4 linked regions of the Homo sapiens genome follow. The protein of the gene in region 2 purifies or fractionates together with the protein of the main gene of each other region. This does not show direct contact. Each region holds a gene or a part of one and is shown on either strand. Other genes may lie near its edges. The genes, in order: CLASRP, TMEM184B, REN and CCDC9.

The links.
Region 1: the proteins of TMEM184B (region 2) and CLASRP purify together in Homo sapiens (affinity purification with mass spectrometry; 2 studies listed by BioGRID and IntAct, with this or other methods). This does not show direct contact.
Region 3: the proteins of TMEM184B (region 2) and REN purify together in Homo sapiens (affinity purification with mass spectrometry; 2 studies listed by BioGRID and IntAct, with this or other methods). This does not show direct contact.
Region 4: the proteins of TMEM184B (region 2) and CCDC9 purify together in Homo sapiens (affinity purification with mass spectrometry; 2 studies listed by BioGRID and IntAct, with this or other methods). This does not show direct contact.

Annotation. Positions count from the first base shown.
Region 1 is NC_000019.10:45,035,085-45,042,057, reverse strand, and holds the start of CLASRP (CLK4-associating serine/arginine rich protein), read right to left. Parts: upstream 3,014-6,973; 5' UTR 2,950-3,013; intron 1,875-2,949; 5' UTR 1,846-1,874; coding exon 1,747-1,845; intron 1-1,746. Other genes in the region: transcription factor RelB, read right to left, coding at 4,268-4,653. UniProt on the Homo sapiens protein: Probably functions as an alternative splicing regulator. May regulate the mRNA splicing of genes such as CLK1. May act by regulating members of the CLK kinase family.
Region 2 is NC_000022.11:38,270,006-38,277,433, forward strand, and holds the start of TMEM184B (transmembrane protein 184B), read right to left. Parts: upstream 3,006-7,428; 5' UTR 2,879-3,005; exon of another isoform or gene 2,564-2,878; coding exon of another isoform or gene 2,523-2,563; exon of another isoform or gene 2,494-2,522; intron 1-2,493. UniProt on the Homo sapiens protein: May activate the MAP kinase signaling pathway.
Region 3 is NC_000001.11:204,156,336-204,163,357, forward strand, and holds part of REN (renin preproprotein), read right to left. Parts: intron 5,829-7,022; coding exon 5,678-5,828; intron 5,081-5,677; coding exon 4,957-5,080; intron 4,344-4,956; coding exon 4,225-4,343; intron 3,261-4,224; coding exon 3,064-3,260; intron 1,035-3,063; coding exon 1,026-1,034; intron 462-1,025; coding exon 342-461; intron 1-341. UniProt on the Homo sapiens protein: Renin is a highly specific endopeptidase, whose only known function is to generate angiotensin I from angiotensinogen in the plasma, initiating a cascade of reactions that produce an elevation of blood pressure and increased sodium retention by the kidney.
Region 4 is NC_000019.10:47,252,612-47,259,532, forward strand, and holds the start of CCDC9 (coiled-coil domain-containing protein 9), read left to right. Parts: upstream 1-3,913; 5' UTR 3,914-3,998; intron 3,999-4,885; exon of another isoform or gene 4,886-5,298; intron 5,299-5,718; 5' UTR 5,719-5,789; coding exon 5,790-5,792; intron 5,793-5,947; coding exon 5,948-6,052; exon of another isoform or gene 6,053-6,099; intron 6,100-6,921. UniProt on the Homo sapiens protein: Probable component of the exon junction complex (EJC), a multiprotein complex that associates immediately upstream of the exon-exon junction on mRNAs and serves as a positional landmark for the intron exon structure of genes and directs post-transcriptional processes in the cytoplasm such as mRNA export, nonsense-mediated mRNA decay (NMD) or translation.

The sequences.
Region 1 (6,973 bases), on a different chromosome or scaffold from region 2:
GTATGTGTATCTTAAGTGTGTTAAATTCCACAAAGGGGAAGGAAAGGGAGCTATGATTATGGCATTTTTAGAGGACACCTGACTGAGCTTGGGAAACAAGACTTCTCTGAGGACTGAGATCTGACAGATAAGCAGTAGTTAACCAGGTATGGGAAGAGCTCATACAAAGGTCCTGTGGCTGGGGAGCGCTTGGGTCAGTGGAGGAATAGCAAGGAGGCCAAAATGACTTGTGCAAAGGAACAAGGCAGAGTGTGGGGTGGTGTGAGTCTGGAGGAAGGGCAAAGGCCAGGCCATGCAGGACCCTAAAGGCCACAGTGAGGAGCCTGGGCTTTCTCTCAAGGGCACTTAGGAGGCATAGAGGTGCTCTGAGCAACGAAGGGACAGGGTCAGTTTTGTGCTTTAGAAAGGCCTCTTGGACTCTTCTAGGAAGGACAGACTGGAGGAGCCAGGACTGGAGGCCAGCAGACCAGGGAGGAGGCTGGGGCAGTAATACAGGAATAACTGGGAAAGGTCTATATAAATGTCATCTGACAGGAACACTGAACCTAGAAAACAGGTGCCATTTCAAGCTGGGATCCCAAGGATACACAGGAGTTAAATAGGTGAGGGGGGGTAATATAGGCCAAAGCCCTGTGGTGGCAGAAATAGAAGGCCAGTGGAGCTGTCCGAGTATGAAGCTGAGTGGTCAGACCACAAGGGTCTTTTAGGCCAGGGATAGTTTGGTCTTCCCCGCAAAAACAACTGAAGCATCAGACAGGAGAGGGAAGTGGTCAGGTTTCACTTAATATTCACTCCTTTTTTTTTGAGACAGTCTTTTTTTTTTTTTTTTTGAGACAGAGTCTCGCTGTCGCCCAGGCTGGAGTGCAATGGTGCTATCTCAGCTCACTGCAGGCTCCGCTCTGCCCCCCTCCCCGGTTCACACCATTCTCCTGCCTCAGCCTCCCGAGTAGCTGGGACTACAGGCACCCGCCACCTCACCTGGCTAATTTTTTGTATTTTAATAGAGATGGGGTTTCACCGTGTTAGCCAGGACGGTCTCGATCTCTTGACCTTGTGATCTGTCCACCTCGGCCTCCCAAAGTGCTGGGATTACAGGCGTTGAGTCTTGCTCTGTCACCCAGGCTGGAGTTCAGTGGCACAATCTCCATGCACTACAGCCTCCTCCTCCCGGGCTCAAGCAATTCTCGTGCGTCAGCCTCCCAAGTAGCTGGGACTACATGCACACACCACTAAGCCTGGCTAATTTTTGTATCTTTAGTAGAGATGGGGTTTCACCCTTTTGGCCAGGCTGGTCTCGAACTCGTGACCTCAGGTGATCCACTTGGGATTACAGGCGTGAGCCACTGTGCCAGGCCAACTTAATACTCACTCCTATTGTGTGCCAAGCCAAATCTCAAGAGTGGCTGAGCTCTTCTGGGAATGGGGAACACAGCAATAAGCGAAACAGACATTCTGGAGGTGGCCAGTCTAACGTCAGGACTGCTCTGAGGGTTACAGAGACTTCCCTTTTTCTTGCTAACACCGGATCGGCACTGGGAGGCCACACCAAACGACACAGTATGCTACAACAAACAGAAGCCCTTGGGATCCCACCAATGATTATCCTCAAGAAAAGATTAATGAATATACTCCTGAGGAAATGAGCCTCTTGTCTTGACATACTTCCAAGCCCAGATTTTACCAGGATGACCAGCTGTGCCCCCCAACCCAGGGTCCCTCACCCCAGACAAAAGGCCAGTTACTCACGATCTTTTCATAATACTCCCGTCTCCGCTCCGCCCTCTTCTTGTAGTCGACCATCATGCCTCGAAGCTTCCGCTCATGCTTCCGAGCCTCGTGCCACATTGTGGTGAGGCCAAGCCTGGGGCCTCAACCTGAGGGATGAAGGGACCAGGAAAGTCAGATGGTCTGTGAAACCCGTATGGGCAGAATCAAAGTCATCTAACAAGTTGGTGGCAGAGTCGATCCCAAACAACACATCTCTTAGCTTCAGGGAGCAGAAGTGAAGCTGCAGAACAGTATGCCAGATGTTCAAGTCCATCCCTAACAACTTCGATCTAGAAGCTTGGGCATTCTGAAAAACCCTCAGGTGATTCTGAGGTGAGCATCACTGGGAAAGGGGTGTCCTAGATTCCACGCGCTGGAGTCGGGAATGAAAGGTTTTGAAACATCAGCAGTGTTTGAAGTAGGGTCAGAAGGCAAACCCTGAGCACTTAAGGCTGGAGCTCAAGAGAAAGAGAAGAACTGAAAAGGCTCCCACTAGGGGCCATGCGTGGGGTTGGGTATGAGTCTGGGTGGTAGAGGGATAAGGAGAATAAGGATGAAGGCAGGTGGAGGAAATCGGAGAAAGCTTTTAAGGGAACAGTGCAGTTGTATGAAGGTGGAGGTCGAGGACAGGTGAAGGGCGTGGCGGAAGATGAAGATGCTAGAGGGAGTGGGAACACGGGGAGGGAGTGTTGCAAGGAGACCAGAGTGAAGCTGAGGTCTAAAGATGGGATCTAGATGGCGGGGTGGGGAGAGCATCCAAAGAAAAAGAGCGTAGAGCCTGAGAGAGGCGGAGCTGGCTGACAGGAGGGCGTGGGCTGAGCTTGGGGGCAGGGCTTGCGGGAAAGGGCGGAGACCGAAGGTTTGGACGGGGCTTGTGGATCGCGTCGCGGCCTGAGGATTTGGGCTGGGTTTTTTTTTTGTTGTTTTTTTTTTTGACAAGGGGGCGGGGCCTGTGATAAGCTGCTGGGCCGAAGGCCGAGTTCGACGCGGCAACTTCTGGCCCACAGCCGGGGCACGGGCTCGGCCTGAGGCCCGTCAGGCCTAATGGGGTGAGGGACGAGCGATCCTCGGGGCCGGGACGCAGCAGAAGCCCACAGCAGCATGGGGAGAGCCTGAGGAAAGGGAGAAGCTGGGCTGAGGCCTGCCCGAAAACCGGGAGGTCGAGCCGCAGCCTGCACTCACCGGCTGGTCGCCGCCTCCCACCGCTGCGCTCGCGCGCGGCCCGCACCGGAAGCGGAAATGAAAGGCCGCGCTAGGGGGAGGGGGCGGAGCATGGTGGAGGGCCGCGCAGCGCACTTCCGCCGACGAGAGAGGCGGGTCCTAGAGTCGAGAGGGGCGGGATCCCGAGGAAGAAGTGGGAGAGCGGAGAAGGGAAGAGCTTGGATGCTTTATCTTTTTATCTTTTTTATTTTATTTATTTATTTAATTTTATTTTTTTGAGACGGAGTCTCTCTTTGTCTCCCAGGCTAGAAGGCAGTGGCGCGATCTAGGCTCACTGCAACCTTTGCCTCCTGGGTTTCAGCTATTCTCCCACCTCAGCCTCCCGAGTAGCTGGGACTACAAGCGCGCGCCACCAAGCCCGGCTAATTTTTGTATTTTTAGTAGAGATGGGGTTTCACCATTTTGGTTAGGCTGGTCTCAAACTCCTGACCTCAGGTGATCCACCTGCCTCGGCCTCCCAAAGTGCTGGGATTACAGCCATGAGCCACCATGCCCGGTCTCATTTTTTATTTTCATTTTCATTTTTTATTTTTTTGAGACACAGCCTCGCGCTGTCGCCCAAGCTGGAGTGCAGTGGTGCGGTCTTGGCTCACTGCAACGTCCACCTCCTGGGCTCAAGCGATCCTCCCACCTCAGCCTCTAGAGTAGCTGGGATTACAGGCGCGCAGCACCACGCCCGGCTAATTTTTGTATTTTTTGTAGAGACTAGGTTTCGTCATGTTGCCCAGGCTGGTCTCAAACTCGTGAGCTCAAGCGATCCTCCTGCTTTGGCCTCCCAAAGTGCTGGGATGACAGGCCTGAGCCCCCAGCCTGGAGGCTTTCTTTGCTACTAAGGGACTAGGGCGTTTCCCAAGCCCAGAACAGACGAAACCCCGGAGGCTCAAAAACTCATCTTTATTGGGAAGACTCTGAACAACCAACCTACCCCCCACCTTCAAGTCTGGGGAGGGAGGGCCAGGAATCTGCCCCCTCCTCCCATATGTACAATCTTTTCCGAATCCTACTGGAGAAGGTGCCCCCACATGTGGGGACAGAGGCAGCTGTAACAAGCTAGTGCACGGGAGCCATGTCCCTTTTCCTCTCCGGACTCAGTTTCCTCATCTGTAAAATGGGCTCAAGGGGAAACCCGTGCAACGGAGCTTCTCGCCAAGGCTGAATATGTCCACTTCAGAAGCATGAGGAAGGGCCAAGGGGATGGGGGTGCTAGACATCCTGGTTGGGATTGCACGGCTCCTCCACCTCCCTCCCCACCCAGTGCCCCTCCTCTGGCATCGCGGGGCTACGTGGCTTCAGGCCCCGGGGATAGGAGGCCGCCCCCAAAGGCCGCCTCGCGGTAATGATTGGGGAACATGTTGCTGCCCACAAGGCTGGCGGTGCCTCCATCCCCGGGGCCCGGGGCCTGGTACGAGTCCAGTGTCAGTGGTTCAGGGCCGGGGGTCTCCCCAACCACGGCCCCGGCACCTCCGCTGCACACAACAGCGCTAGCGTGTGGCGGTGCCGGGGGCAGCAGGTCCAGCATGGTGAAGAGTGTGGGGGCCGTAGGGTCGTAGGCAAAGCCATCGTCCAGGAGGTCAGGCCCGCCAGGGGGCTCCAGGCCGGGCAGGGACACGGTGCCAGAGAAGAAGTCAGGGTCTGGCAGCAGGGCTGACGGCGGGAGGAACGGGCCTACGGGGATGAAGACAAGAGAAGTGTAGTGTGATTTAGGGCTAACTTCTGATCAGGCCCTAAATCAAATGCCCTACTCCCTGCAAAATGTGATATCAAGGTGGCCTTTTTTTTTTTTTTTCTGAGATGGAGTCTCATTCTGTCACCCTGGCTGGAGTGCAATGACGTGCTCTTGGCTCACTGCAACCTCTGCCTCCCCAGTTCAAGTTGATTCCCCTGCCTCAGTCTCCTGAGTAGCTGGAACTACAGGCCAGGCATGTGCCATGCCCAGCTAATTCTTATCTTTTTAGTAGAGACGGGGTTTCACCATGTTTGCCAGGCTGGTCTCGAACTCCTGACCTCAGGTGATCCACCTGCTTCGGCCTCCCAAAGTGCTGGGATTACAGGTGTGAGCCACCAAGCCTGGCCTTAGGTGCCCTCTTAATCCCAAGGAGAATCCGTGTGGGACTATCACCATTCTCAGATAATAAGTAAATTGAAGGCCAAGCGTGGTGGTTCACACCTGTAATCCCAGCACAACGTGACGAGACCCTGTCTCTACAAAAAAATTATTTAAAAGTTAGCTGGGTGTGGTGGTGCCCGCCTGTAGTCCCAGCTACCTGGCAGTCTGAGGCAGGAGGATTGCTTGAGCCCAGTTTGAGGCTGCAGCGAAGTATGATCACACCACTGCACTCCAGCCTGGGCAACAGAGCAAGACCTTATCTCTAAAAATAATTAATAATAAGTAAACTAAGGCACTGAGGGAAAGTAAATGGAAGGCTCACACAGCTGTTGTGGAACTGGGGTTGAAACCATGCTCCTACACAGCTGTGGAGAGTTTTCCCTGAGAGTGAGAAAGGAGAAGAGGTTCCAAAGCCCCCCAACATACAGAGACAACCCAAAAAGTGAAATCTCCAGACCATGGGAGACACAAGTTGGGAAGTCACCAGTCCCAAAATTGTCAGAAAAAATAAATGTCATTCTCAGGCATAATGGGGACTTAAGAAAAAATAACAATCAAATCAAAAAGTTTCATTATAAGAGGGATTCTCAGGCCAGGCATGGTGGCTCACGCCTGTAATCCCAGCACTTTGGCAGGCCGAGGCGGGCAGATTACCTGAGGTCAGAAGTTCAAGACCAGCCCGGCCAACATGGCGAAACCCCTTCTCTCCCAAAAATACAAAAATTAGCAGGGCATGGTGGTGGGCACCTGTAATCCCAGCTACTCAGGAGGCTGAGGCAGGAGAATCACTTGAACCTGGGAGGTGGACATTGCAGTGAGCTGAGATTGTGCCACTGCACTCCAGCCTAGGCAACAGGGCAAGACTATCTCAAAAAAAAAGAGGGACTCTCTTTTTGGAACAAGACAAACCTTAGAGACACAAGGGACTATTTTCTAGCCTTCCTTGCAGCCTGATGTGATCATGTGACTAAGGTCTGCTAACTGGAACGTGGGCGTAATGGCTGGAGCTACAACAGCCACCTTGCACCATGAGTTGGCGAACTGAAAATGGCAGAAGCCTCGGTCTCTCGATGATCATGCAGTCACCAGACCATCCCTGGAACACCTACCTATGGACTGTTTTTTGTTTCTTGTTTTTGAGACGGAGTCTTGCTCTGTTGACAGGCTGGAACACAGTGGCACCATCTTGGCTCACTGCAGCCTCCACCTTTTGGGTTCAAATGATTCTCCTGCCTCAGCCTCCCAAGTAGCTGGGACTACAGGCATGTGCCACCACATCCAGCTAATTTTTGTGTTTTTAGTAGAGATGGAGTTTCACCATGTTGGCCAGGATGGTCTCTCTCTCTTCACCTCGTGATCTACCTGCCTTGGCCTCCCAAAGTGCTGGGATTACAGGCGTAAGCCACAGTGCCAGGCCTGTTTTGTTGTTGTTGTTGTTGTTGTTTTGAGAAGGGTCTCATTCTGTTGCTCAGGCTAAAGTGCAGTGGTGCAATCTTGGCTCACTGCAACCTTCACCTCCTGGGTTCAAGTGATTTGTCTGCCTCAGCCTCCAAGTAGCTGGGACTACAGGTGTGCACCACCACACTCGGCTAATTTTTGTATTTTTAGTAGAAACAGGGTTTTACCACGTTGGCCAGGCTGGTCTCAAACTCCTGGACTGAAGCAGTCCACCTGCCTCAGCCTCCCAAAGTGCTGAGATTACAGGCATGAGCCACTTTCAGTCCCTACAGACTATGTATGTGAGACAAGAAATAACGTTCTATCCTGTTGAAGCCCCTGTTATTTTGGGTTTTGCTGTAAATGCAGTTAAATGTGATCATAGGTGGGATGCAGTGGCTCATGCCTGTAATCCCAGCACTTTGGGAGGCTGAGGCAAGC
Region 2 (7,428 bases):
GAAACTTTCAAGGCCTCCCTGTTGACATCAGGATCAAGTTCAAACTCCTTGGCGGGGCCTCCAAAGGTCTTCAGGACACAGACCCAACACAGTCACAGGCAGTTCAAGCCTCTGCGTCTGAGAGGTGAGGCAGCTCAGACCTCCACATCTGCCCGGAGTTCCCTCTACCTGGAACGCCCTCCTTCTCCTTCATAGGTGGAGCACCCCTCGTCCTTCAGGGCCAAGACGACTTCCAGCACCCCAGGGTTATGGGGGAGGAGCATGGGCTCTGAGGTCAGACCTACTGGTTCAAAACTCAGCTGTTCCACTCTCTGCTGCCTCCCCTACAAAATGCAGACAGTGACAGCCCCCACCACACTGGGTGGTAGGAAAATTAAATACAGTAATTCATGAAAGCGCTTTGAACTGTGCCTGGCACACAGTAAGTGCTCAATAAACGGACTGTTGTTCCTATTGTCCTCTGGGCCCCTTTAGGGCCCTCTGTTTCCACCACAAGTAGGGCACTGTCTTGCACATATTTGTTACACATTGGGCTCCCTCTGCCAACCACCTTTTAGAGGGCTGCCCCAGCACAGTGCAGGGCAGCATGGTCTTCGGTGAGTGCTTACTACCCGGGGCTGCAGGGCCTGGTGCAGACCCCACACAGAGCTCTCCCAGGGGCCCAGCTATTGGCCTTCCAGAACTCCCACACCAGATCCCCAGTCTAAAGGCCCAGAGCTGTGACTCGTTTTCAAAACAATAAAAAGCTGTACCCTGCCTTGCCGGGGCTGTTTCCACTCCAGGGAATTTACAGAGAGAAAATGAGCACAGCAGGGACTGGAAATAGCTCTGAGCCCTTCTCAGGGTGAGGGACTGGGCAGGCCAGCCAGAGACCAGGAGCAAAACCTCTAAGACAGAGAGGGAGCAAACAGCCTCCGGACAGAAGCCCCTGCTCACAGAACTCGGCCAATAGGAAAGAACTAGGACAAGTGGCTCATTCACCCTTCTGCCTCGAAGCTCTTCTTTCTACTTGGTTGGAGAAATTCAGAAGGGGCTCTTTGAATAACCCACCACCACCGTGGGTGCAACAAATAAGACATCCAGAATCCCAACGACTGCACAAATGCTTTGGGGGAATTCACAGCGCCTTCTCCACCCACATTAGCTATTGGAGCCTCGTATCCAGATTGGGGTCACTAAATCAGTGTCCATCTTCCCAGCACTGGGAGCCCCTAGAAGGCAGGCACCAGGTCCCATTGATCATCAGACCGCTATGCCCCAGCATAGTGCCTGGCACATAGTAGATGCTCAGTAAGTTGCAAGACAAGATCTGGCAGCAAGAGAGAGGTCCTGGTTAAAGGATGATTCCATCCAGGCTTGCCACGTATCGTGGAGAAGAACGTCATGAATTCCCTCTGGGCCTCAGTTTACCGCATCTGCAAATAGGGACAACTGTTCCTTACTCACACAGCTGCTGTGCAAATTACACAGGAAAATATATGTGGAAAGCAGAAAAGCCTCAGATGAACGTCAGTCATCCTTCAGGCTTCAGCTCAACCGTCTCCTTATGAGGGAGTCTTTCCTGCGGCCACGATCCCCCTCCCCGGGAACTGAACCTGCCTCTGTACTCCTTCTACTCCTTTGTTTGGTATTTTTCACATCATCGTGATCACCTGTTTCCAAATCTGATTCCCCCATGCTTGAGAGCTCCTTGATGGCTTGGGCATCAAATGTTTCTGTCCAGGTGGGCACACATACCTGGCTGCTGGGGCTCTCCCACCCCAGCGTCCCAGGTCCCAACTCTGATACGCACAGCACCCTAGGCAAGGTTCAGAGGTGCAGAGCCTAGGGGTTCTACCAAGGAAGCTAAATAGGTAGATGGAAAGGGACACTGTAGGCATAACCTGTCAACGAAGTCACACCTCTGAGACCTGCGCTGCCTCTGCAGGTGCAGGTGAGCTTGTTTGCCTGGCTGACTCTGCAGCGCAGGGCCTCCAGGGCACAGATTGCTGCTTCTTTCCTTACAAAAGCACCAGCAGTCAGATAAATAATACATGGCCTTCACCTCACCACAGGTATCAGGCATGCAAATACCTGCTTTGCCCCAAAATGCCCTGGAAAGGAGGGAGGAGTAAAACGTCTGGCCTTATACAACACCTCCAGAGGGGATATGTATTGGGAATCCATGCCCAACCCCCAGCATAACTGCCTTGCCTTGGCCTGGAGCCACCCAGCACTGGAGGTAAGTGGATCCAAGCGAGGTACCAAGGGTGTGCCCAGGAGGAAATGTACAATTCACGGGAAGGATACAGACACCCAAAACCAGTCTCCACGGTCCCTTTGGGGGCAAACATCTTTCGAGCCCCAGGTCCCAGTCGATCCCCTTCCAAACCTGCGGACCTGTGTGGCGGGCGTGTACACCCTCCACTCACGACGCAGCCCCGAAAGCCCCCCGCCGACCACCCTCCCAGGTCACTGCCACCCGCACAGGGCACGGACGCCTCCCCCACTCACTCGGCCGTGCCAGTCGCCAGCACACCCACCCGGGAGCACACAATCCCTCTTGCAAAGCGCCTTGGTCCATCCGCCTCCCTCTCCCGGGGCCGCCCCCCGGACAGGTCCGATTACACTCCAGGAGCTGCCCCCGCCACGTTGGCGTGGAAAGGGAGCGGGCACACCCACGGGCGACCTCGCGGGGCGGAGAGGAGGCACGGGTGGGGAGACGGATGCCCCCTCCCTCCGCGGCCGCACCGGCCTCCGTAGTGCCCTCCCCGCCCGGGAGCCGGCGGCCGAAGCCGGGCGTCCCTCGCGCGGGCCTCTCCGAAACAAGCAGCCCCCCGCGCTCGGGAGTCGCAGCTCCCCCTTGGGGCTCCCGGGCGAGGCCGGCCAGGCGGGATACCTCAGGAGCCCATGGCGGTGGCGGCGTCTGCGGACGATGCGCGGCAGCCGGACTCTGCGGGCGGGGCGGGCGGCGCCGCAGCCCCGGAGTCTCCGCCGCCGCCGGCGCGTCCCGGGCCCAGTGGAGTGCAGCCGCGGCGCGCATGCGCTCTGGGCTCGCCGCCGGGGAGGGCGGGGCGGCGGACGCGGCTGAGATCACTGCCTGGGCCTTAAAGGGGCCGCGCCCCGAACCCCAGCCCGCCGCCCCGAACCCCAGCCCGCCGCCCCGCGGGTTGGGGCGCGACCCGGGTTCTCTTGCCACTCACAAAACCAGCTACGACCGGCCCCCAACCGCGAGAGCTTTCTGGGCTGCGATCTCTGCCCCTGACCCTCGCTGGTGCTTCACTTCTTTTAACCCTAATTTCCTCCATTTGAGCCTGTTTTGAAGATGAAACGAAATACAATGGCTATTTGTTGAGTGAAGGATGCGTGTGGAATTGTGGAATGAACGTGGACCGAGTGTTGTGTGCAATTAGGCCAGATGAAATGGCAAAGCACTGAAAGAGGCCTTTTTTTCCCACTCCGCTTAGCAGCGATTCTTTCTTGCCCCGTCTGGCTCTAGGCTGCCGAACTAGCAAAAGTCTTCAGATAGGGTTCAAGCCGCCTAGTCCATTTCTGTTTGCCGGTCCAGACATCACCTAGGTTAACTGAACAAGATAAAATGCAATTAAGTTCTGGCATTGATGTGCTCAAGATCCCCAAATGTATTTATGTCTCCAGACTCCTCGCCTGAACTGTCTACCCAACACCTCTTCCTTGGAGCTCCAGCAGGCATCTCAAAGTCAGCGTGTCTGAGCTGAGCCAACCCCACTTCCACACACAAAAACCTGCTCCCTCTCAGCTTTGCCTCCATCAGCTGTTGACAATTCCATCCTTCCAGTCCCCAGGCCAGAACTCGGAGTCAGCTGTGAATGAATGCCCCCCTTCTGCCCGCTACCCAATAAGGCAGGCAGGAGATCCTGTTGGCTCTACCTGCAAAATAGATCTAGACTCAGATGTCTGCCACTCCTCCTCCAGTGCTACCACCCTGGTCCAGTATTTGCACAGGATTATTGCAGAGTTCTGCTAACCCCTCTCCCTTGTTCCAGCCTTGCCCTCTGATCCATTCTATCAATTCAGGGGTGAGGGAGATCCTTTTTTTTTTTTCTCTTTTTTCTTTTTGAGACAAAGTCTCGCTCTTTGTCTCAAAGTTGCCCAGGCTGGAGTGCAGTGGCGCGATCTCGGCTCACTGCAAGCTCCGCCTCCCGGGTTCACGCCATTCTCCTGCCTCAGCCTCCCGAGTAGCTGGGACTACAGGCGCCCGCCACCATGCCCAGCTAATTTTTTGTATTTTTAGTAGAGACGGGGTTTCACCGCGTTAGCCAGGATGGTCTTGATCTCCTGACCTTGTGATCCGCCTGCCTCGGCCTCCCAAAGTGCTGGGATTACAGGCGTGAGCCACCACGCCCAGCCAAGATTCTTTTAAAATCTGCCGGGCACGGTGGCTCACGCCTGTAATCCCAGCACTTTGTGAGGTCGGGTGGCTCATTTAAGGCCAGGAGTTACAGACCAGCCTGGCCAATATGGTGAAACCTTGTCTCTGCTAAAAATACAAAAATTAGCTGGGTGTGGTGGTACATGCCTGTAGTCCCAGCTACTCTGGAGGCATGAGAATTGCTTGAACCCGGGAGGCGGAGGTTGGGTTGTGGTGAGCCAAGATCGTGCCAATGCACACCAACCTGGGTGACAAAATGAGAATCTGTCTCAAAAAATAAAATAAAATCGAAGTCAAAACATGGTACTTTTTTGCTCAAAACCCTCCATTGGCTCACTGTTTCGCTCTAAGTAAAAGCCTTACAAGTCCTTACAAACACTTGATCTGACATTCTACTCTCCTGGGGATTCCTGATCTCATTCATCTCTTACCCTTTCCCTCCACACTGATCCCTTGCTGTTCCTAGAACAAGCTGAGCACACTCAGCCCCGAGCCCCCTGCACTAGCTGTTCCCTCTGCTGCGATCGCTGTTTCCCCAGATACCTGAATGGCTCCTCCATCACCTTCTTCAAGGGTTTGCTCGAATGTCCTCCACTTAGTGAGGCCTGCTGTGAGCACCCCTAGTAAAACTACCAGACCCCTCACATGCACTCTGTATTTCCCTTTACCGTGCCCTACTTTCCCTGTCACTTCATTTCTTTCTTTCTTTCTTTTTTTTTTTGAAGCGGAGTCTCGCTCTGTCACCCAGGCTGGAGTGCAATGGTGCTATCTCGGCTCACTGCAAGCTCCGCCTCCCGGGTTCATGCCATTCTCCTGCCTCAGCCTCAGAGTAGCTGGGACTACAGGCGCCCACCACCATGCCTGGCTAATTTTTTGTATTTTTAGTAGAGACGGGGTTTCACCGCGTTAGCCAGGATGGTCTCGATCTCCTGACTTCGTGATCCGCCTGCCTCAGCCTCCCAAAGTGCTGGGATTACAGGCGTGAGCCACCCTGTCACTTCATTTCTATCATATTATATAGTTTGCCTGTTTCCCTGTGTGTCTTCTTCTAGTAGAACACAAAATTTTTCGGTTTTGTTTTTTTGTTTTTGAGACAGTCTCTGTCACCCAGGCTGGAGTGCAGTGGCACAATCTCAGGTCACTGCAACATCCGCCACTCAGGCTCAAGTGATCCTCCCACCTCAGCCTCCTGGTTAGCTGGGATTATAGGCATGTGCCACCATACCAGGCTAATTTTTGTATTTTTTTTTTTTTTTTTTTTTTTTTGTAGAGATGGGGTTTCGCTATGTTGCCAGGGCTGGCCTCAAACTCCTGGGCTCAAAGCAATTGCCCGTCTAGACCACTCAAAGTGCTGAGATTACGGGTGTGAGCCACTGTGTGCCTGGCCAATAAATTCTGAAGAGAAAGATTTTCATCCTTTTTGGCTTTTTTGTTGTTGTTGTTGTTTGAGATGGAGTCTCACTCTGTCACCCAAGCTGGAATGCAGTGGTGCAATTTTGGCTCACTGCAGCCTCAACCTCCCAGGTTCAAGCGATACTCTTGCCTGTGCCTCCCAAGTATCCTTTTTGTTTTCTGATGTAATCCCAGTACTTAGTACAGGGTCTGGCATAGAGAACATGCCCCCGCAAAAGTAGGTATAACATGACCAGAGATCTGGTAATAGCAAAATCCTATAGAACGATTCCTCCCCAGCCCCAGGTAGGACATGCCTGGGTCTGTCCTAACAAGAGTAAGGCTTATCAATTGCATTGTAACTTGTTTATGACTTCCCAGCTCTCCCTCCCTACACACTAACCCCTTCAGGAGGAAGTCTTTGTCCCAATTACCCACCATATCTGCAATGTGTAGTACAAGACACTTACAGACCAGACACAACCTGACTTACACTTCCCCTCCAGGGCTTTCAGTTCAGGGTCTTGGTTTCTGCTTAGGGGCACTCTTGGGTCTCAACTTACAGAGGCCCCGGGCTGGCAGGGGACAGAGGCAGGTGGTGGGTATTTTTAGGCTTGGTTGCCCGGAAGGGGCTCAAAGACAGAAAGTCACCTGGTCTGAGTGATATGGCAGGTCAGCAGGTGGTATTGGGGGCCCTAGTTGGTGCTCCCTGTGGGAGGAAAAAAGCCCTCTCAAGACCTTTACTCAGGTTTTCCAAAATGAAGATAAACACCTACCTTGCTATCTTCCCTCTCACCCCTCCTCCATGCAACTACCCATCCTTTCTTTCTTGGGTTTTGCTCTCTCACCCAGGCTGGGGTGCAATGGTTTGATCATAGTTCATTGCAGCCTCAAACTCCTGGGCTCAAGCAATCCTCCACCTCTGCCTCCCAAGTAGCTAGGACTACATGGGCATACCATCACGCTCAGCTAATTTTCTATTTATTTATTTATTTATTGACAGAGTCTTGCTCTGTTGCCCAGGCTGGAGTGCAGTGGCGCGATCTCGACTCCCTGCAACCTCCCAGGTTCAAGCGATTCTCCTGCCTCAGCCGCCCGAGTAGATGGGATTATAGGCACGCGCCACTACGACCAGCTAATTTTTTTTTGTATTTTTTTAATGGAGACAGAGTTTCACCATGTTGCCCAGGGTGTTCTCAAACTCCTGAGCTCCGGCAATCCGCCCACCTTGGCCTCCCAAAGTGCTAGGATTACAGGCGTGAGCCACTGCACCTGGCCTAATTTTCAATGTTTAATGGTTTTATAGAGACTGGGTCTTGAACTCCTGGCCTCAAGCAATCTTCCTGCCTCTGCCTTCCAAAGTGTTGGGATTACAGATGTGATCAGCATGCCTGGCCTATTCTTTCTAACAAGGCTCAAAGATTCCACCTAAATGTGTCCGCTTTCCCCTCCACTGCCCTGGTTCAGTCTGACTTAACTTCTGGACAATTATAATGGTTTCCCAGGCCCCCAGCCTCACCTTTCCCCCTGCCCACAGGCTAATGAAGAAAGAATGCTTTTCTCAATGACCAGCTCCACCCCTTTGAACTCAACTCAGCAAACAGCTACTCCTATTCTCCCTTCAAGGACCAAATCAGATATCACCT
Region 3 (7,022 bases), on a different chromosome or scaffold from region 2:
TCAGACAGACAGACAGACAGACAGACAGAAGGCTGATGGGGCACCTCCAGGCTGCATGTCCTTCCTGAGTGTGGGTGGGTGGGTGGAGGCCACGCTGGTGGCCTGTTGAGGCAGTGAGTAGAGGAGGGAAGGTACTGTCACCCTCCACCACTTCTCCCCAGGCCCCTCCCTTCTCTGTTCCCCAGCCTGGACAGAGCAGGCAGAGAGCAAATGGTGGCTGTGCTTAAGAAGTGGCTGCATTTGGAAAGAGGGCAGGATGGTAATGCAGTCCTTCCCCACCCTCCCCAACCCCAGTGACGGCAGCATTTTTTGGAGCCCGGGGAGGGTTGAGGATTTCTGACCCCTTCATTTGAATCTGCCAGACACCAGTCTTGATGAGGTTGATATAGTGGAAATTCCCTTCGTAATGCTGGGGGTCGCTGCCTCCCAGCACAATCTGTCCTCCCAGCGATTGGGAATTCCTAAAGGAAAGATCAGAAGCTCTTGGAAACCCATAACCTCCAGGACCCAGCAACTCAGGCAATTGGGGAAGGTTGCACAAGGGTGCAGGGGAGGACAGAGGGCTCTAGAGCAGAGGAATGTGGGACAGACAGCCAGGCTCGGAGCTGTCGTTGGGAAGCATGCAGAACATACTGCTTCTCTGCCTTTCTTCCCCTCCCCAAGACCAACCAGAGGTTGTTCCAGGGTAGTCCAGCTGTTCCCCCAAAAAGCATCCCCAGAGAGGTCACAGAAAAGGAGCAGGTACAAGGACAGTGAGTGGATGTGAACAAGACACAAATGGACACCCCTCACTCTTGGGTTGCTGCTGATTGAGCAGGTGCATGGGAGGGGACCCTGGGGAGGCTATTGGGTATGGGGTGGGCAGGTGGCATGGAGAGAGCAGGAAGGAGAGACAGAGAACTTCGGCATCTAGCGGAGGCTGGGCTTGCTGATGTGAGTTTTGGGCCGGTGGCGTGTGTAATTCTAGGTCAGGTGCTCGGGGAGTACTGGAAGGTCACAGCCATGTGGGGGTTTTGTCTCCTTACTCGGAATCTCTGCAGAGAAAGAGAGACAGCAGAAAGGAAGCTTCATTTCATGCCAGCCTCATCAGCCCTGCTGTTTGGCAGGGTGGGTGTTATGTACTCTCTTTGCCCTTCAGGCAATGGAGTCACCAAGAGGCGAAGTCACTTGCCTGAAGTTACCCAGTCCATGAGTGAACAAGTGGGGGACTGGAGCCAGGCTCCTGGTGCCCCGTCTGGAGCTGATTCCCCTCACCTTCCTTTCCTCCTCACTGCACTTGGCTCAGGGACTACTGTAGGCCTAGTCTCCAGGGCATGCCTGTGTGTGTGATGTGTTTTTCCAGAATTCATACTAGAATTCACACATGCACATGTGTGCATGGGTGTGTAGGTGTGCATATGTTATTTTGTGCAACTGCAAACTACTTGTGTTTTTATAAATTCGGAATGTATGTGTATATGCTAGCACAAATTCCCTCCTGCCTGTCTCTCAACACTTCAGTATCTCTCTGGATGTTCCCTCCTTCCCATCCCAAGATAAAAGAAGAGGCCAGCCCTCTCCTCTGCAAAACCTGGCTTCTTCCTGTCTGCTGGAACCTCATCTCTTTCAAGGCCTCCAAACTCCAGTGCCCCCATTTAGCTCCTCTTCTTTCCACATTTTTAATCTCTTTCTTTCCATTGGCTTCTTCCTCCACCTACAGGCATCACTCGAGCATCCTCTAGCATTTAAAAACACCCACCCTTCCTCTTCTGCTTCTGGATCTCACCCCCCACGCCACCCCCCATTCCCTTCCCTGTTGAATGTCCCAGGGCAGCCTACATCTCATGACCTCCACTTCCTGACACCCACGTCGTCCACCTCTTAACTTCTTGCCATCTGGCCTTGCCCCCACTTCCTCTAAAACAGTTCTTCTAAAGACCACCCCTGAATGCAGAGCCGCCAATTGGCCTTTTCTCAAGGCCTCACTTTCTATCACCAAACCGGAGACTCCTCTCCATTTTACTGTGAGATTTCTCTGAACTCTGATCCTCTCCTCTATTCTTTTTGCCACTGGCCTCATGTTCTTACCCTTGTGACTTTTTTTTTTTTTTTTTTTTTTTTGAGACTGGATCTCACTCTGTTGCCTTAGCTGGAGTGCAGTGGCACAATCACTGCTCACTGAAGCCTTAACTCCTGGGCTCATGCGATCCTCTCGCCTTGGCCTCCCAAAGTGCTGGGATTACAGGCATGAGCCACTGCACCCAGCCCCTTTTGCCTCCAGCTCTCTTGTCTCCAACTCATGCCATCTTTCTAAGCCCAGCAGTTTGGAGTAGAGCCCAACCCTGCTCAAGAGCTTCCCCAAGGCTGGCTGAGCTGCATATAAGCTCAGCCTAGAATTGAAAAGCATCCATGGTTTTCAGCACCACACTTGCTGCCTGCCTGTGACACTCTTTATGTTGGAATATGTCTTGTCTTCCCTGTTAGCCTGTAAGCTCTATGTGGGTAGGGGAGTACAGATTCTGCCTTGTTCACTGTGTTCACTGCTGCACCCCCAGAGCCTACCACAGTGCTTGGCACATAGCATTTACTGAACTGATGAGTGAGCAAACAAACGAATGAAGGATCTAATGGATGACTGAAGTTGGCTGTCTCTGTGTGGGAGGAGCCATGGCCCTAACAGGCAGGGCTACAGGTCACAGTAATCCCTTATTTACCATCGCCCCCACCTTGCATCTCCTCTTGCTCCAGAGTGGCGCTGTCTATTAGAATGTCCTGTCATGCTGGGAATATTCTCTATCTGCACTGTCATAAGACTGTAGTTACTAGCCACCGTGGCTGCCAGGCATTTGACGTGTGGCTAGTACAACTAAGAGCCACCAGTTGAATGCTTAATTGATGCTTAACTGTATTTAATTAATTTAAATTTCAATAGTGCCTTCCATATTGGCTAGTACAGCTCTAGATATTGATTGGCTGTCACCTAATTACAAACACTTTACAATTCTGGCCCAGACTCTCCTTCCACTCCCCATCTCTTCTCCCCTCCTGTCCCCCCACCTCAGCCCTTGGAGTCCCAGTCCCCACCTGTTGTAGTAGAAAGAGAAGACGTCCTCTTTTAGCACCCCTTGGGAGATGATGTTGTCGAAGATAGGGGTGACCCTGCCAATGGCCTGTTCAATGAAGCCCATGCCCACAACCCCATCAAACTCGGCCAGCATGAAGGGTAAGGCGGGCATCTCCGTGACCTCTCCAAACATCTGTGTCACCGTGATTCCACCCACCTGTGGGAGGAAGGACCAGAGGAGACCAAGCCCACTGCCCACTCCTTGGTTGGAGTCTGGTCTGGGCTTCCACACTAGGGATCCCAGGGGCACACATGCTCCAGGGTACAGAAATCGGGGTAAGAGTATTTCCTCAACCCTGCACGCACACACTCTGTGCCAATACACATCTCTGCTGCGGAGCCCAGAGAGAGCTAGAGTTGACCAGGGATCGGAGAGCAGAGGCTGAGAGGGTGGTCCTGCCAAGCAGCAAAAGAAAAGCTGCCAAGAGCTCCTCCCCTCCCCAGTGGCCAGACTTTCGTGCCTGGCAGGACTGGGTCTTGGCCCCCACCCTTATCATGGGCGAAGGGTTTCTTTAGCACAGACAAGCTTGCCCTTCTCCCTCCTTTATATCTGAGTTCACAGAAAAAGGAAGGGAGGCAGGAATCACCCTGATTTCCTCTCAGGTGCCACGTGTGCCCCTCCCCTAACTCTGATGGAGCAGGGCCTGAGAAACTCCAGGATGAGGAAACGGTCAGACATGGGCCACATGGAAAAGAAAAGCAGGCCTTGACCTGAGTCCCAGAGTCAACCTCAACTGTGACCTTAAAACCTATGCCTGACCCTAAAACTCAGCCTGACTCTGACCCTGGATTTCAGTCTAGGGTGTAGCCCAGTCAGAGCTGGTGAACTTGGACGAGTTACTTGACTGCAGCCACGGGGCTCAGGACAAGCCCTACATGCAAGTTAGATGCAAAAACATCCACAAACCACCCAACGGTGAGCCCGTAGCCCAGGCTTGCTCCCCCATAGGTACTGCTGCTTTGCAGCAACAGCCAGATGTGGCAGAGTAGGGTGTTCCTCAGCTCCCCAGGCTCCAAGTGGGCTGCAGTGTACCTCCCCGCAGGTGTGGGCCCTGGAGGGTCAGGAGAGGCCTGGGGACAGAAGGGGTCCGGGGCAGATGACCTAGGGCGGCCCAACTTACGGTGATGATGTCCTGGCTGAGAAAGCCACTGACTGTCCCTGTTGAATAGCGGAGGGTGAGTTCTGTTCCATTGTGCTTGTAGCTGGAGGAATCCGAAGCATCGAAGAGCTTGTGATACACTGGCAGGGGGACAGAGGCTCAGGTTTGTCCAAGAGTGGCCCAGACAGGGGGACTCAGAGGCAGGGTGCATTGTGGGTATGGCTGGTTAGCTTAGGTGCAGGGATGAGTGGCCCTAGGGTCAGGGGGCTTGGAATATGTGCTTCATCAATCAAGGACTGGGTTTCTTGGGCTCTCCTAATGTGCCCATACATCGAGAATTTTGTCCTAAATGAAGGAATTTAAAGTAATCACTAACACTGATAACACCAGAGAAGATGCCAGGCACAGAGTAAGTGCCTAGTAAGAGGTTGTTGATTAAGACTAGGGATGGAAGAGTTCCGAGTGCCTGGGATGGGTTTGAGAATTCAGTCCTGTCTCAATCTCAGGAAGACTGGGAAGTGGCCTTCTGGGTGCTCAGGGGTTCTTGGACCTTTTTTTGTTTTTAACCTTGGTGGCTGTATCAGAAAAACGGGAGACATCTTCCCCTCTCCCCTACATGTCAGTGGGCACAGAGGCAGAGAGGAAGCCACTCCCTTGGTGGCAAGAGGGATGGGAGCTGGGTGTTGGGCAGGATTGCTCATGCACAGTAGGGCAGGGGGATGGAGGAGAGGCACTGTGGGTCTTAGGTCTCACCACAGGCAGTGTAGAGACGGCTGCACTTGGAGGAGGGCACCCAAACATTGGACGAACCAGTGTCAAAGACGACTTTGAAGGTCTGGGGTGGGGTGCCGATGCCAATCTCGCCATAGTACTGGGTCTGTGGGGGTAAAAAGAGAGGGCTGGAGGGGCTCAGGGGACCTTGGGTCTTGGGGTCTTGCCTGGCTTCACTCTTGGCTCTCGGTGTGAGACTTGGCCCAGGCGAGGTCCTATAGCCTCTCGGGGTTTCCATTTTCCTGCAGGAACTGGTAGGAGGCTTAGCATCTCCCCATGGCATCCCAGAAAGTGGGAGTCTCAGTAAGACAAGAGGGCAAAATCAAAACATTGAGAATGAAGCAGGAAGCAAACTTGACTCTTGAGGATCCTCTGGGGCAGGAAGCCATCAGGTTGTGCTGGGCCAGGTCACAGAAACCCCCACCTGAGTCACACACCCCTTCCCACCCACCTGTGACACCTGGCTTGAGGCCTGGGCTGAGTTCCAAACCTAACCCTGCCCCTGAATGGCCCCTGGATGCCTTCCTGTCTTCTGTGCTCAGGCTTTCCAGCTGGAAAATGGGAATTTTCTAGGGTGCTCACGTGCTACTCAGCGCCTTCGTCAAACACAGCTTGGAAAGGGTGAGTCTTGCAGCAAAGAAAGCCCTAGGTCCATGAGGGAAAGGAGACAGGGAGGGAGCGAGGGGCTGAGCCAAGCACTCACGTCCATGTAGTTGGTGAGGATCACGGAGGAGGTGGTGTTGCCAAGTGTCAGCCTCTTCATGGGTTGGCTCCACTCGGGACCAAGCCTGGCCATGTCCACACCTCGTTCCTTCAGGCTTTCTCGGATTGAGGGCATTCTCTTGAGGAAGATCCTGGCCCAGGGTGGAGGAAGCAAAAATAGAAAAGTGCTGTACCTCCACCACAGTGGTGGAGTCCCTGAGGCCAAACCCCTGCTTTTAGTACAACCACCTTTAACGTTAGCCCAGCCACCTGGAAATCACCTCTGTCGCTGAGGGCCTCTGGAGCATTTATAAGAGTTACTTCTTGTCAAGAGTCAATTTAGAGGAGTCAGCTGCCCGGGGATTAAATAACCCTGAAGTGACTTCCTTCTGTTGCCTAATTTTGATTAGACAAGGCTATTTGTTTATTGGTCCGTTCATTCATTTATTCCGTAATCACCTGCTGAACAACTACTTTGTGCCTCACTGTGCTGGACACTGGAGCTAGAAAGATAATGATCATGACTGCCTTTAAGGAACTCCACCTGGCGGGAGGACAGACAGGAAACAGGCACAGACATTCCCTCTGAAGAGATTAATGCCAGGGAGTGCCCCTGTCAAAACTAGGGGCTGGCGGGGAGACAGTGCCATGGGAGGCCGCTAGGTGGCAGCAGATGCCCACAGCAGCTGCAAGGTCTCCAGGATACCAGGGGACAGGCACCCAGCCAGGGCTGTGGTGGAGTGGACCCCCTGAGCTGGGTTGGGCCTAGAGAGATGCCAGCATCTTCAGAGCGCCATGCACCTCGTCCTTGGAGAGATGTGTCCCGGTCCCTTGGCTTCTTGTCTAGATGTTTTCCCATCACCTTTGAGAGGCAGAATTAAAGAGACCTAGGAAACTGACTCTACTGAGCCGCTACTGAAATCACACCAACAAGCTAGCTGTCATCCATTTTATAGATGAGAAAAATGAAGGCTCACAGGGACAAAGGTGACTCAGAAATGTTGAAGCAGGGATTCAGAGCATGTGTCTGGCCCTATTTCCCATATAGGGTCCCCTGGGTCCCGACATAAAGGCTGCCAAAGCCCAGAGGAAGATGTCTCTAGCTGTTCACGGGAAGGTCCCAGGATGGAAGCCCAAGTTGACTCTGCAATAGACTTTCCCATACACACAAAGATTCCCTCTTTCTTCTACTTTCTTCTCAGTGGCTAGTCCTCCTATACTCACACTACCCTTTCCTTCCTACATCCTTCTTGCGTCCCATGCATTCTACTTACCCCCATTTTGCCCATGAACATGAATGCAACTTTTATGCCTATCAGCATGGTATTGTAACAGAAATGATTTGT
Region 4 (6,921 bases), on a different chromosome or scaffold from region 2:
GCCACCACGCCCAGCCGAGGCTGAGTCTTTATCTTGGGGACTGGCCTGGGCATTGGAAGGTGTTCAGGAGCAGCCCTGGCCTCTGTCCACTAGATGTCAAGAGGACCCTCTCTTGTGACAACCAGAAATGTCCCTAGTCATTGAGAAATGTCCTTTAGGGGGCAAAATTACCTCCATTGAGAACCACTGGATAAGAACACGGAGTTTGAGGATGCACAAAAGGGAGTGATGTGGCTGGAGAGGGCAGCAGCGGTGACACACACACCACTCAGGCTCCATCAAGTCAGCTCTCCCCAGGGTGCTCTGGGCAGCCTCTTTCTGTCAGAACAGTTGCCATAGTTTGAATGTGTCCGTCGAAGTTCATGTGTTGAAAACAGTCGGCAGGGCGCGGTAGCTCACGCCTGTAATCCCAGCACTTTGGAAGGCCGAGGCAGGTGGATCACGAGGTCAGGAGTTCAAGACCAGCCTGGTCAAAACGGTGAAACCCTGTCTCTACTAAAAATACAAAAAAAAGTAGCCAGACATGGTGGCAGATGCCTGTAATCCCAGCTACTCAGGAGGCTGAGGCAGCGAATTGCTTCAACCTGGGAGGCGGAGGTTGCAGTGAGGCGAGATTGCGCCATCGCACTCCAGCCTGGGCAAAAAGAGCAAAACCTGTCTTAGAAAAACAAACAAACAAACAAAATATATATATATATTTATACAAACACATACACACACATATATGGAGAGAGAGAGAGGTGGGGGTCCCACTATGTTGGCCAGGCTGACCTTGAGTGAGCTCCTGGCCTTAAATGATCCTCCCACCTCTGCCTCCCAAAGTGTTGGAATTACAGGCATGAGCCACTGTATTTGGCCTAATTTTTAATTTTTTTTGTGGAGACTAGGTCTCACTCTATTGCCCAGACTGGTTTCAAATTCCCGAGCTGAAGTGATCTGCCCACCTTGGCCTCCCAAAGTTCTGGGATTACAGGCATGAGTCACCGCACTGGCCTCAAGTGAATTTCGTTACATGCATAGATTGCTATTTGGACAATTATAAGAGGATTAAGTTTCATTGGTATCTCTGAAAGGCTGTGAACAGTAGCCTTAGAAATGGTAAGGAATTACCAGGTACTTCCACTTTCTATGTCTTAAATCACAAAATAAAATGACTGGCACTACAGGCAATCTGGTCTGTCCACTTATAACTGTCATTCACCTTAACTGAGGGTATTCTGTAGCATTCATCATCATTTGTCACAATACCTTTATTATTTATTTATTTATTCTGAGACAGAGTTTCACTCTTGTTGCCCAGGCTGGAGTGCAGTGGCTCAATCTTGGCTCACTGCAACCTCCATTTCCCAGGTTCAAGTGATTCTCCTGCCTCAGCCTCCCCAGTAGCAGGGGTTACAGGCGTGAGCCACAGCGCCTGGTCGGCTTGTCACACTAGCTTTATTATGTCTAAGTTTTGGTTAATGCTGTAACCTCCTGGACTCTGCAGCTATTCAGCTGCTGTTGCTTTGAGTATCTTCTAGTTTTGGGAATGCACCAAGCTCATTCACCACAGGGCCTTTGCATAGGTTGTGTCCTTGGCCTGCACAGGCAGCCTCTCACCCTCCGGCCTCTCCTGCCCCTCTTGCCAGGCATCTCCCACAGGTGCTGCTATTTCCCATTTACTTGTGTCTTCCCTTAGGAGGACAAGGATGGGGTCAGCTTTGTTCATCATCTCAGTTCCCCCACCAACTTTTCCTCCCAGCACGCAGCCTGGCAGTCAATGCTGATTTGGGAGAATGAACGACTGATTCTATCGGTTGAACGTTTATTTTATATATATATATATATATATATATATATATATATATATATATATATACTTTTTTTTTTTTTTTTTTTTTGAGACGGAGTCTCGCTCTGTCGCCCAGGCTGGAGTGCAGTGGCGTGATCTCGGCTCACTGCAAGCTCCGCCTCCCGGGTTCACGCCATTCTCCTGCCTCAGCCTCCCAAGTAGCTGGGACTACAGGCGCCCGCCACTACGCCCGGCTAATTTTTTGTATTTTTAGTAGAGACGGGGTTTCACCGTTTTAGCCGGGATGGTCTCGATCTCCTGACCTCGTGATCCGCCCGCCTCGGCCTCCCAAAGTGCTGGGATTACAGGCGTGAGCCACCGCGCCCGGCCTTATTTTATATTTTATGATTTCATTTACTTATTTATTTTCGATACGGAGTCTCACTTTGTCGCCCAGGCTGGAGTGCAGTGGCACGATCTTGCCTCACTGCAACCTCTGCCTCCCGGGTTCAAGCAATTCTCTATCTCAGCCTCCCAAGTAGCTGGGATTACAGGCATCTGCCACCATGCTTGGCTAAATTTTGTATTTTTAGTAAAGACGGGGTTTCACCATGTTAGCCAGGCTGGTCTCGAACTCCTGACCTTGTGATCCACCTGCCTCGGCCTCCCAAAGTGCTGGGATTACAGGCATGAGCCACTGCGCCTGGCCAGTTATTTATTTTTTTGAGACGTAGTCTTGCTCTGTCGCCCAGGCTGGAGTGCAATGGCACGATCTCAGCTCACTGCAACCTCTGCCTCCCGGGTTTAAGCGATTCTCCTGCTTCAGCCTGTAGCTGGGATTACAGGTGTTACAGGTGCCCGCCACCATGCCTGGCTAATTTTTGTATTTTTTAGTAGAGACAGGGTTTCACCACGTTGGTCAGGCTGGTCTCAAACTCCTGACCTCGGGTGATCCACCCGCCTCGGACTCCCAAAGTGCTGGGATTACAGGCGTGAGCCACGGCGCCCGGCCTATTTTATTTTGAGACGGAGTCTCTCGTTCTGTCGCCCAGGCTGCAGTGCAGTGGTGCAATCTCGGCTTACTGCAACCTCTGCCTCCCGGGTTCAAGCGATGCTCCTGCCTCAGCCTCCCAAGTAGCTGGGATTACAGGCGCCCGCCACCATGCCTGGCTAATTTTTGTATATGTATATTTTTTGAGACGGAGTCTCCCTGTGTCGCCCAGGCTAGAGTGCAGTGGAGCGATCTCGGCTCACTGCAAGCTCCGCCCCCGGGGTTCACGCCATTCTCCTGGCTCAGTCTCCGGAGTAGCTCGGACTACAGGCGCCCGCCACCACGCCGGGCTGATTTTTTTTGTATTTTTAGTAGAGACGGGGTTTCACCATGTTGGCAAGGATGGTCTCGAATTCCTGGCCTCAAGTGATCCGCCCTCCTCGGCCTCCCAAAGTGCTGGGATTACAAGCGTGAGCCACTGCGCCCAGCATTTTATTTTATTTTCGAGAAGGGGTCTGCTCTGTCGTCTAGGCTGCAGTGCGGTGGCATGATCTCGGCTCACTGCAACCTCTGCCTCCCCGGTTCAAGCGATTCTCCTGCTTCAGCCTCCCGAGTTGCTGGGATTACAGGCGCGCGCCACCACAACCGGCTAATTTTTTTTGTAGAGACGGGATTTCACAATGTTGGCCAGACTGATCTCGAACTTCTGACCTCAGGTGATCCGCCCGCCTCGGCCTCCCAAGGTGCTGGGATTACAAGTGTGAGCCACCGCCCACGGCCGGTAGAACATCTGAAGCTTCTAAAGCGAACTCTAAGGTTTCATTGGCACGAGGGGGCTCGAACCACGCCAGGCTTCCAGGCGTCAGTGCCCAGTGCTTGGCATCTACTGATAGAAACCAGGAATGAGGGGCTGGAGGCGGAAACAGCTTGAAGAAAGAGGTAGAGGCCAGGGAGTGAGGACGGTGTCTCCTTTTCCTGGAAGTTGGTAATTCAGGCAGAAGGAAGTTGGATGAGCTTGCGGAACACCCGGGGGGCCAGTCGGCCCCGCTCCCGCATCCATCGCGGAGGCGCGGCCCCTTTAAGGCTCCCGGAAACGGTCCCACAGGACCGGAAGTGACCCTCTTTATTTCCCTTCCTCACGTGGTGCAGGCAGGAAGTGACGCGCCTGGCCCGGGAGCTGCGGTCGCAGAGGCCGACGGAGCCGGAGTCGCGGACGCCGCGGGGTCTCCGGGACAGGTGACCTGGGGGAGGGGGCCGGGAGCGCGCCCAGAGAAGGCGGGGCCTGAAGCCCCACGTGGCGGGGAGTGCGAACAGGCCCGGGCGGGGTCGGAGTTCTCTGCGGGGGGCGGGGACAGGACGCCCACATGGGAAGCTGGAGGGGCGCTGGCGGGGCGGGCCGTTGGGTGGGTGGGCAGGGTCGGGGCGGGGCGTGGCCAGAGCCTGGGCCGGCGGCTGTGGGCGGGACCTAAAAGTTGTGGCTGGACTGTGGGCGGGGCCATAGTGTTGCTTGTTCAGCTGTGTGGCGGGGCTCGGACGCCGGGCGGAAGCTCTGTGGGCGGGGCCAGAAAGTTTTGCCTTACTGGAAGTGGGTCCAGATTCTTGGCCGGGACGTTGGGGGCGGACCCAGAGGCTGACGCAATGGCGGGGGCGGGGCCACAATGTAGTGGGGGAGCCAGGGGGCGGGGCCAGGGTGCTGGCGGGGAATGCTGGGGGTGGAGCCAGAAAGTTTCGTCTGAGCCACGGGCGCGGCCAGAGCGTTGGCCGGGAGGCGGGGAAGCGGGGAGTTGAGCCAGAACCCTGGGGAAGCCATGGGCGGGGCCAGATGCTGACGCAACGAGGTGTGGGAGGGAGTCAGGGGGCGTGTCCAGGAGGTTGGCCAGGCCAATCGGAGGCGGGGCCAGAGGGTTGACTGGGCAGGCCGGGGGCGGGGCTGGAATAATAATAAGAGATGGTAGGGGCGGGTGTAGGCTGTTGCCTGCGAGCCAGGAGGCGGGGAAAGAGCGTGGCTGGGAAAGTCGGGAGCGGGGCCACATTAATGGCCCATGGGTGGGGGCGGGGCCAGAAGTCTGGCGGGAAAGGCGGGGCCAGAAAGTTTTTTCCCGAGCCGTGGGCGGGGCCAGAGCGGTTTCCAGGATGTCGGGGACGTGGCCCTGGCATTCCCAGCCGGATTGAGGCTGGAGCTTTGCACAGAAAATCTGGGGCGGGCCTGGGTAGTTTTGTCCTTGTTGGGGCGGGTGGAGTATTCAGTGGGGCAAAACGCCAGTTCCAGGAAGCCTCGCCAGTGAGTTCTGGGCCTGTGTACAGAATCCTTTCGGGGGAGGCGGGAGGCTGTCGACCTTCCGTAGGGCGCTGGAGACGGGACTAGGACGTCCCTGAGGAAGGCGCGGGCTTGGAATGTTCTCTGAGAGCTTGGGCAGCCAATAAGAGTGGGGTTCGGACTTTCTTTGAGCGTGGGATTGGGAATGTTTCTGAACCTTACCTGGTGGAGCTAGAATATTCGCCTGGATATGAGAGGCACCAGGATGAGCACAGGGAGGTGGGTCTGGAACTTTCTTTTGCAGGCTGGTTGGAGGGGTTGTAGTTGGAACTCTCTTGAGATAGGGAACCCGGGCTAACACTCATACCACAGGGTGTGGCGGCTGGCCTAGAATCAGCCTTTGGAGGAGAGCAGTGTTGGATACTTAAGCAGTGGGTGGGGGCCAGAACATCCCCAAGGTGGGTTTGACTAGATCGTTTACATGGGAACTGGGTGAGTCCACAAAGATCATGAAAGGGCTGAGTCTGAATTTCTATGGAGAAGATGGAGGTGGCAGTTGAAAGGAGGGAGAGTGAGGGCTACAATTCTCTTGGGGTACAGGGTTTTTTGTGTATGGCTGTGAGGATCCCGCAGTATGTTAGAGGGTGAAGTAGGTTGGGGGGCCATTGGCCTTTGTCCTTTTTTTCCCTCTGTCCCCAGGAACCCTCAGTGCTGCGTCTAGATTCTGCAGGGGAGGTTTGCTGGGACCTTGGCTCCACGCAGCCAGCGAAATGGTGAGGCTGAAAAATGGGGTCTCTAGAATCTGAGTTTTGGGGAAGGGGGCTTGGGAGGATGGGATCCATAGGGGCAGACTCTCAGACCCTGGGGGAAAGTCCCTGGTATGGATGGAGGTTTTTCCTTCCATCCCTCAACTGCCTCCCGGTCTCAGGCAGCCACACTCGATTTGAAATCAAAGGAGGAGAAGGATGCTGAGTTGGACAAGAGGATCGAGGCTCTTCGGCGGAAGAATGAGGCCCTCATCCGGCGCTACCAGGTGCCCTAGCCCCGCCCTGGGAGACCCCATCCCCTCTCTTCCCCGCAGTGAGTTTTTCTCACCTCTCCCTTCCTTAAAACCTTTTCATGGCTCCCCATCACTGTCAGGATAAAGGCCAAAGGCCTTAGCCTGACATCCCTTCTTTCATTCCATTATTCATTCATTCATTCATTTGTTCACAAATATTCCCCAAGATCTTTACCAGCCCCAGTGCTGAGTGGTGCTGGGGATATAGCTGTGACTGAGACAGACCCAGGCCTGCCCCCTCCAGGGTCCACCGTCTAGTCAGGGAGACAGCCCTGTCCTCAGGGATGCCCCAGAGCAGACAAGTCTGGAATCAGGAAATTCAGGGGTCTGTGGGAGTCCAGAGGAGGCTCTTGACCCAGCCTTGGGGATATCAGGGAGGGCTTCCTGGAGGAGTGGACTCTGAGGCTTGAGTGGTGAGTAGACAATAGCCAGTTGAAAAGGCGAGGGGAACATGTTTCAGGCAGAAAGAACAGTTTGTGCAAATGTTGGAAGCAAGAGAGAGCTTGGAGCTTCAAGTTGGAGGGTTGGTTAGGAGAGAATTGACCTGGGCAGGTCAGCAGGGGCCAGGCTGTGCTAGGCCCTGAATGCCACCAGGATGAGTTTGGACTTTGTCCTGAGGGCACTGGGGAGCCAGGGAGAGCCTTGAGCAGGGGTGGGACCGGTCAGAACAGCTCTTTAGGAAGACGCCTCTGGGTGCTGTGCGGTGGTGGGTGCGAGGAGGTGATACTGGAGCCCAGAGACCAAGGAGGAAGCTGGGGCTGGAACCCTAGTGGGAGAGGAGGTACCTGGCTCAGGGCAGGGCTGTTGAGAGGGACTCAGTTACTGATGGGCAGTTCAGGGCA